2 separate regions of the Homo sapiens genome follow, and region 2 is linked to region 1. The links come from fine-mapping of genetic effects on gene expression. Tissue or cell type: whole blood. Region 1 holds a variant in brackets; the other region holds the start of a gene. All regions are shown on one strand. Distances are from middle to middle.

What was found. PIP is the estimated chance that this variant, and not a neighbour inherited with it, causes the effect.
Region 2: it holds the start of PAX5, and the variant in region 1 is fine-mapped to the expression of PAX5 in whole blood (TOPMed, PIP above 0.99).

Annotation. Positions count from the first base shown.
Region 1 is chr9:36,995,742-36,999,922 of GRCh38, reverse strand. All of the region lies in intron 5 of PAX5 (paired box 5), which reads left to right. Among named protein-coding and RNA genes, the nearest start is that of PAX5, 36 kb to the left of the region's middle. RefSeq lists enhancers at 32-81, 1,739-2,253, 2,254-2,769, 3,271-3,771, 3,673-3,832. The variant G/A (reference allele first, on the strand shown) is at 1,609.
Region 2 is chr9:37,032,393-37,036,573 of GRCh38, reverse strand. PAX5 (paired box 5) reads left to right here and starts at 2,306. Exons shown (of 10, transcript NM_016734.3): 1 at 2,306-2,588. The coding sequence starts at 2,543. RefSeq lists enhancers at 151-200, 1,594-1,643, silencers at 734-893, 1,974-2,153, 2,420-2,540 and a promoter at 1,722-2,160.

The DNA.
Region 1 (4,181 bases):
TGGGCAGAGCCTGGGGCCAGTATGGGGAAGAGTTTCAATCAGAAGGGCATGATTAGCAGGTTGGATGCGGAGAGAGAAGTGAGACCTGAAGGCCAGAGGTTGGAGGAGAGCAGAGAAAGTAAGAAGCAGCCACTGGGGAAACAGGGATATTTCAGGCACACTGGCCGGCTGGCCCATGGCAGCTGCAAACCATGGATTTGTGAGGGTTCTGGCCTCCAGTGCGGTACCATCAGCAGCCTGAGAGAAGAATCATGGGGTAAGAGAGGCAATGGAGAGCTAAGAGGAAGACAGCTGAGGGTCCTTGCCCATTTTTCGGATGAGGTGACTGAGGCTTTGCAAGGTGGAGTTGCTTACTCTGCTGCCTAGTTCACAGTCATCCCCAGCTTAGACTTGAGTTTTGCTCTGAGGGCATTTCCTGGGGCCACCCTCCTGCCCAGATCTTGCAGAGGTGAACGGGTGATAGGATCCAACCACAGAGGGTAAGGTGGCGAGCAAGACTGGCAAGCTGAAATTCCTCTGATGAGGAGGGCAGTGGGTGAGGTGACACTGGGGGAAAGAGTAAGGCAGGGAGGGCCAGTTTTGACCAAAAGGATCTTGGGGGCTCCTCATAGGAGGTGGCATTTGAGAGCTGGGTAAAGGGAGGAGAGGGCATTCCAATCAAAGGCAAGAGAGATTGTGCCAAGTCTGGGACTCTGGTGAGCATGTGCAGGGAGAGGACCAGCACGGCAGGATTTGGAAAGGGAGAGAGGTAGAGAGATGTGGGTGGCTTAGACTTTGACGGAGGCTTTCGAACATTTAGTCTAGAAGCATTTAGGGAGATAGTTTTGAGCTATGTGTCTCAGATGCTCAAGAAACATTCACTCTGCTGAGTGTTTCAGGTAAAAAGATAACATGACAGTGACTAGCCCTGCACTATCCAACAGAAGCAGAATGCAAGCCACGTGTAATTTTAAATGATCTAGTAACTACATTAAAAAGAGTAAAAAGAAACAAGTGGAATTAATTTTAATAATATATTTTATTTAATCCAGTATACCCCAAATATCATCATTTCAACATGTCAGCATATAAAAAATTTGATGCTATATTTTCTCTTATTTTTGCTGCCAAGTTTTTGAAATCTGGTGTGTATTTTACACATGTAGTACATCTCAATTTGGATGCGAAACGTTTGACAGTTAAAGTTAGATGTAGTCCTACCAAAACAATAAAGCTGTGTTTAGTGGGACAAATATTTTACACTGCTTCTATTTTAAAATTAAAATTAAAATCAAATCAAATAAAAAAATTAGCTCCTCGATTGTACTGGCCACATTTCAAGTGCACAGTAGCTACATAGGACTAGCGGCTGCTGTATTGGACAACACAGCTCTAATACAAGTGCTTGGCACATAGTAGGTGCTCAGTAAGTGCTCCTTGGTAGAGTGGATCAGTCACATTCCTTTAGAGGGTTCACAATTAGTAACGAGGGTGAGTGGAGGGACCTCTACTATCCTCAGTCAAGGGTGCTTTTGTTTGGTATTTTGGGCTTCCATAGAAAGCTCCGAGTAGAGTTCTGGAGCAAAGACAAACAAACTAACTAGAATATTGTTAGGCCAGTGGATTGGC[G/A]AAGGGCCCTTTCAGTATAGAGATTCTAGAGTTCTTCCTAGGATGCCTGCCTCCAAGACCAGACTCGGGTATATGGCCACTATGTCCAAGTCTCAGATGAACTGTTCTTCAGCAGCAGGTAAGATCTCTGTGGCCTCTGGAGGAAGAGCTGGGGCTGGTTAAAGGAAGCTGCAGGAGGCAGATTATGGCTGAATGCAACATATGGCTTTCAGAAGCAGCCAGGCTGGGCCAAGAATGGAAGCTTTATCTTAGAAAGGTAGTGAGCTCTCCATCATCAGAGGTGTGAGCAGGCGCTGGACAAATGAGGAGCAGAAGAGTCAAGGATGACATTCTGGTTCGGACTCTGTGACTTTTGAGGCAGGCCTGTTCTAGCCTGGGTGGCCAATGCTTCTGTGCCAGTACTGTGTCTGCAAGTGCATCTACCCACTTGTCTTTCCCTTCTGCTGCCTGACCCTGAGGCTGCCACTCATGTGGACTTGACAGGGCAGGGGCCACAAATCATTTCTATCCCCAGCGCAGCCTCTCGGCACAGCCCCGGTTCACACGGATGCCTGGGAGGCCTGCGGGATGGCTCTGAGGGTCAGGCTGGGGTGCCACCCAGTTATGAGATGTCGCTTTGTCTCTTGGTTGGTTTGAACTGAGAGCTTTCGTCGAGGAAGCTGTGGCATGGCTCAGGAATCCTGCTGGGTGAGGGGAATGGAGGCTGAGTCAGCACCTCCCTCTCCGGAAGGCCCAGAGGAGGTGGTGGCAGGGAGAGACTTGGCAAAGCAGGCAGGGCTGTGAATAGCGGCCATGGGTGAAAGGGCAGCCTCAGACCCTGGGTTCCTTCCTGGGCTTTTGATCTCTAGTGAGACCTCCTTCCGCCGCTCTCCCCACTTAGGTCCCCTCCCTGTCCCCCTCACAATAACTCACAGGGCCCTGAGTTTGAAAGGCCCTGAACACACTGAGGTCAGCGGAGTGCGAATCCCTTTCACCAGTTTAGAAAGCTGACCTGTCCAGCCAGTGTGGACTGTGGGGGCCAGAGGTTTCTTTTTGGGCAGTAGGGGTACGTTGCAAGTGAGTTTCCAGCCTTCTGGGCTCTGGACTACCTTCTAAGGAGGGCACAGGAAGGGCAGCCAGGGTTCAGAGGTGGCCTGTCCTTTCCAGAAGATGCCAAGTCTGATGAGACTCTCATGGGGAGGTTTGTTGGGGGGCATTTAGCCAGGTGCTCCCATTATGACTTCCTTTTTGGGGATGCCTGTCTCCTGTCTGTTTTTGTGTCTCTCCCCATGTCTTTGGGGGTGCATCTCATTCTGTGTTATTTGGCTTTATTTCCTGTTTATTGAACCTTCCTCTGTGTCTGTTTCTGTCTCCCGGTCTAGCTCTCACTAGCTTTCTTTTTCGTACATACTCTCTCTCACACACACACTCTCTCTCTCCCTCTCCTTCTTCTCTTTCTCTCACACTCATTCACTCATTCAATTTCCTTTCTCTCTTGCTATCTCTCTCTCTCCCCAAATCCCCTCTTCCCCTGTCTCTTTCAGGCTGGACGCCCCCTCAGCCCTGCCCAGCAGACCTCCACGGGAGCTATGGCCAGAGGGAAGGGGCTTCAGAAGCTCACAGACCGTGCTGGGGCCCTGGGCCCCTCTGACATGGGCAGGTCCTGGTCTTTTCTCTCCTAGGACCCTTTTCCTTCCCTGGATGCATAGATGCTGTCTGCTGCTCCCGGGATGAGGGCAGAAAACAGAAGCAGGAAGTGGGGAGAGCCCTCTCAGAGCTCCCAGAAGGGATGGGTATGTGGAAAAGCTCAGGATTCCTGAGTCAGGAGTAATAGGCAGCCCCTGTGGGATTGAGAGTTCACAGATCTCTGATCCCTGGAGAGCCCCAAATAAGGTGTTGAGTCAAAGGCACAGGCTCATGGGCAGGGATGAAATGGTTTGAGGACTTCTTGTAGCGAGTTACTTAATCTCTCTGCACCTCCATTTTGTTATCTGGCGAATAGAGTTGACGCAAGCCTTGTGGGTTACAGTGAGAATAAAATGAAGTGAAGTGACAGCTGCCAAGGGCGTGGCCCCAGGGCCTGGCTGTAGTCAATGCTGAGTAGATGGCCACGGAGAGGCCTATGTTTGAGGACGTGAGGCCCGTCATGGCAGAGGGCAGCAGGCTTTAGCCACGGTCCTGTTGGCAGCTGGAACTGGCTGGTTCGCCCACCACCACCTTCCTGTTTGGAGCTGTGGAGCCACGGAGCGATTCCATAGTACTGAAGAAGCCGATTGCCTGCAGCCGGGAGCCCGGGGCATCCAGGCTGAACAACAGTGCCCCCAGGTGTCGGCTGCAGAATGAAGGGCCACTCACTTTCCTCCTCCTTTGCCTTTAGGAAGCTGAGTCTCCCAGCCTGCTTCATGGCAGAAGAAAAGGGTCAGGCCCCAGTTTTCCCTGAAGAGAGGCACAGGGAGCACAGGGGGGTGGAGGCCTCCAGGGTGGGGGCAGAGGGTAGCACCCTGGGCCTGGGAGGGCTGGGCGTCTGAGGGGTTGTTGGGGCCACCAGCCTGGACCTCGAGACTCCCCCATGGGAGCTGGAAGGGCCTTGGAGA
Region 2 (4,181 bases), 37 kb before region 1:
CCAGCGGGCGCCCCCTCGGGAACCACATTTGTTTCCCGCTGGTCTCGAGCGTCCAGAGCGCGAAGCGGCGGAGCACGGCGAACCTACGATTCGTGATGCTTGGCCTAATCCTCTGCCCTTCATGGGTGCGGGCAGGAACGGAGTAGCGGCTGATGTCCCCTCCCTAATCCCAAAGCCCCACAAAAGCCAAAATACACACGCAAACTCTCACCAGCGCATCTCACAAACACAAAAACTAAAGACAACACATGAAAATATAACCCGATCCCCCACCAAAACGTACAGTTCAAAAAAATAAAATTCAAATCGAAGGAAACAAAACACACACAACACGAAATTCCCTAAGGCAACACACACACAGACGACACCCACTCACACCAAATCAAAACACATCTAAACACCGCGGAGAAGGAAAAGCCTTACAAACGACACACAAAAAGACAGCCTACAAGGACAAAGTACAAAATTACACAAAATCAAAACTCACCCCAAAGACCAGGACTTACAGAGCAAAACCCGCTAAAATCAATCCCACGAAAAAACAACACGCAAAACACCCGAAACAAAAGAATATCCCATGGAAAAATGAAAACTCACAGAAAACAAACAAAAACAAAACAAGCCCTCTAAATGGAAACAACAACAACAACAAAACACCAACACCCCCCGCCCCCAGCCCGGGGTGAAATGTCAATTCCGGGAGGGCTTTTGATCTCCAGGCGCGGACAGGCCGCTCCTCCCAGGCGCTGCCTCCCGGCGCGGGCGAGGCGGGAGGGCGGGAAGCCTGGGCTGGGGCTGGGCTGCGGAGGGAAAGAGTCGAGCACTCGGAGATGGCCAAAAATCAAATCTCGGGGTAGGGACACGGGCCCGCAGGCTGCAGGGAGGAGGCGGCGCTGGGGAACTGCGCAGACCACTTGGTGGGGGGGCCGCCCGGGAATCCACAGCCACATTTCCGATTGTGGCGAAATCTGCTCAGTGGATATGTGATGTCCAGTTGCCGCCGGGGGCCCCCCTTTCCTCGAGCTCTAGGCTCTTCCCCCTAGGTTGCGACCCAGCCTCGTGACCACCCCCTCCAAAAAACAAACAACACTCTTGCTGAGGACGATTCACTCTCCAAAACTGCCATTGTCCGGCGGGCCAGGAGTCCTCCTACGGAGCGCTCCCCCGCCCTGGAGAACCTTTCCCCTGCGACCACCCCGCTGCAGGGCCCCACAGGCTTTCAGTGGCTAGGCCCAGCAGCTGAACTAACTCAAGGCTGGGGAGGGGAACAGGGAGGGGAGGCTTGAGTCTGGCCCGAAGAGAGAGGGCTGGACATGCCACACCTCTGCTCGGTCTCTGTGGATCTGATTTCCTCTCTGGAATCAAGTCCTGGGGCTCTGGGACTCCACAACGTCTCAGGGCTCGAGGGCAATGCGATTCCACTTATGGGCCGGGGTAAGGTGTCTGGAACTCCCGCCAATCTCCAGAAACTACTGAGATGTTCTGCTCTGCCCGGGTGCTCCAAAGCGGAAGCCCGGATTTCATCTCCAGTATTTCACAGCTTAACCTCCATGCTCTGGGCCAGAATGGAACTTGATGTGGGGAGGGGTTCTGGGACTAGAAGACTGGATGGGACCTGGGGGCTTTAGGGATCTGGCGCTGCCCTAGGGTCAGGGGCCCAGCAATAGTCAGGACCCCAACAAATTGGGGTGGGGGTTGGATGGCTGGGAACCCTGGGGTCGGGCGCCGCCCTAGGGGTGAATCGGAGTAAACCGGAACGTCGCCTCGGTGCCTGGCAACACTGCCAGCCTTTGCAACCCCTTTCAAAAGCACCTGCTTGGCCGAGCAGTTAATTTCTTCAAAAACAAAAACCCGGCCTGCGCTCGTCTAAGCAGCGGGGTTTGCACATGGAGATGTCACAGGCCCCGCGCACAGCGCAGAGGGCCGCGACCCCCAAGCGCATGTCTTAATAGAAGGTGCGGCTGGAAGACCCGGGCTCCCGGGCTCCGCTTCGGTCTGCCCCTTCCCGTAGGTGCGCTGGCTAGCGCCCGGCGCAGGCTGAAGCCTTCCTTCCCTCCCCCCAACCCCTATAAAAGTCTGGGGCGGCGCGGCAGCAGCACTGCTGCTCTCCCGGCTTCCCGCTCTACTCCGGCCGGGCCGGGTCCGCCACGTCTGGCGCGCTGAGCAGGCCCGGCCGCGCAGCGCCTACCCTTTCCTCGCTCCGGGCCGGCAGTGTGGGGCGGCGCGCTGGGGGCGCGGCGTGTCTGGGGACATCTTGTGATGTTGGCGAGAACAGGACATGATCTCACATGGCGAGAAGCTCTTTAGTTCCTTAATCATTTCACGGTGCCTTCGGACGCTTTTTTTCCACCTAAAACGTTTAGTTTCAGCTCAGTGATCAGCTACCCCAGCTCGGCGGGGGAGCGGAAGGCTTGAATTATTCCGACCTGTGAGCGGCCCCTGGCACCAAAAAAAAAAAAAAAAAAAAAAAAAAAAGAAAAAAAAAGGCACAAAAAAGTGGAAACTTTTCCCTGTCCATTCCATCAAGTCCTGAAAAATCAAAATGGATTTAGAGAAAAATTATCCGACTCCTCGGACCAGCAGGACAGGTAGGACCGCGATACGGGCTCCAGATGTGCAAACTCCGGGACACGGCCAGGCCTTGGTCCCCACGCAGGGTGACCCTGGAGGAGGAGGGGGCGCGCCGCATTTTCGTAGAGACTGTCTAACTGCGGCGTGTTTGTTATGTTTTTTCACCTATCTGTTCACACACTTCTGCATCAGTCCAAATATCTGTGAGTTTGTCTGTGTTTTTCTCTGTTTCTGAATGTTCACGCTGGCGTCCTTCCGGGGGTCTGCAAGTTAGGGCCTGTGTGTTTATATAAGGGACTCAGTGTGTTCATTACAGTATATGTATTTTTAAAAGATGTAAAAATATATGAGTTTGTGTCCAAAAGTTGTTTGCCTGTGTGTGTGTGTGTGTGTGTGTGTGTGTATCTTTATACTCGTGGGGTATTCGTGTGTGTTTATAAGTTAGTACTTGTGTATATTCTTTTGGGTATCCAAAATGTGTGTCTACTATGAGTGTTATTTATGTAATTCGGAAATATCTGAGTGTACATCCACTATTTAAAGGGTCTGCATTCACCTGTTATATCCCAAGTGATTTTTGGATGTGAGAAAGAAGTGGCTACACTGACCTTTCCATTTTTGGATGTCAACGGCTGTCCGATGCATACACGCCAATGTTCACATTGTGTCTCTAGGCAAACTCCTAGACGTGGGTCTGGGGCCTATGGAGATCCGTGGTGTTTAGCATGTGCATTGTAAGGCCCAGTGTCCATTCTATTGGGAGATAGGACCAGGAATGAAGGTGTGAATTCAGGGCATGCAGCCTCTTGGTGTGCAGTGAGCACTGTTCAGGCTACCATTTGTACAAACAGGTCTCCTGTGGCAGGCACAACCTTGCAGATGACAGCGGACACCTGTAGGGTTAGTTGTGACATTTCTAGGGACCCCCAGCCTACATTCACTTTCACCTAGACAAGCCTCTGACACTGGCGTGTGTATTTGTGTGTACACACAGACACACACACACTGTGTCCTCAGGTTTTATCCTGTGGGTGCCGCACCAGTGGAGGAGAGCACAGTGGGTGGATGCATGTGCATAGTCTGGGCATTCAGCTCTAGGGCCTGTATGCGCACAGGCCTCCCTGGCTTAGGTCCCCATGTGCCTCCCACAGGCCTGAGAAGTAGGTAGCAGGATGTGTTTATGTCTGAGAGGAGATAGCAGGGACAGTAGGCCTCCATCTGCCCTGAGGCATGAATCAGGTATGGGGGGCCTCTTTCACTCACTAGGCCACTGTGTAACTCCCACACAAACACTCTCTTGGCCCTGGCAAGAAGCCCCCTTCCCCCATCTCTGTGCCCTCTGAGAACCCCCATCTCTCCTCCAGCCTCAAATACAAGCCTAAGAGCAAAAAGGATAAACTTAGACCCCAAGCCCAGGACAACTTCTGGGGCATAACTGTGTTTCCAAAATTGTGGCTGGAGAGAAGTGAGGGCAGAGATCTGAGGCAGAAGAGTGCTCCCAGGATGAGGGCTCAGGAAAAGTTACCTGGAAACTCCTCTTCTCCATCCTCAATTCTCAGAAGGCCCTTCTCCCTGGCAGTGGGCTTCTCAGCAGATGGACTTTCAGAGAG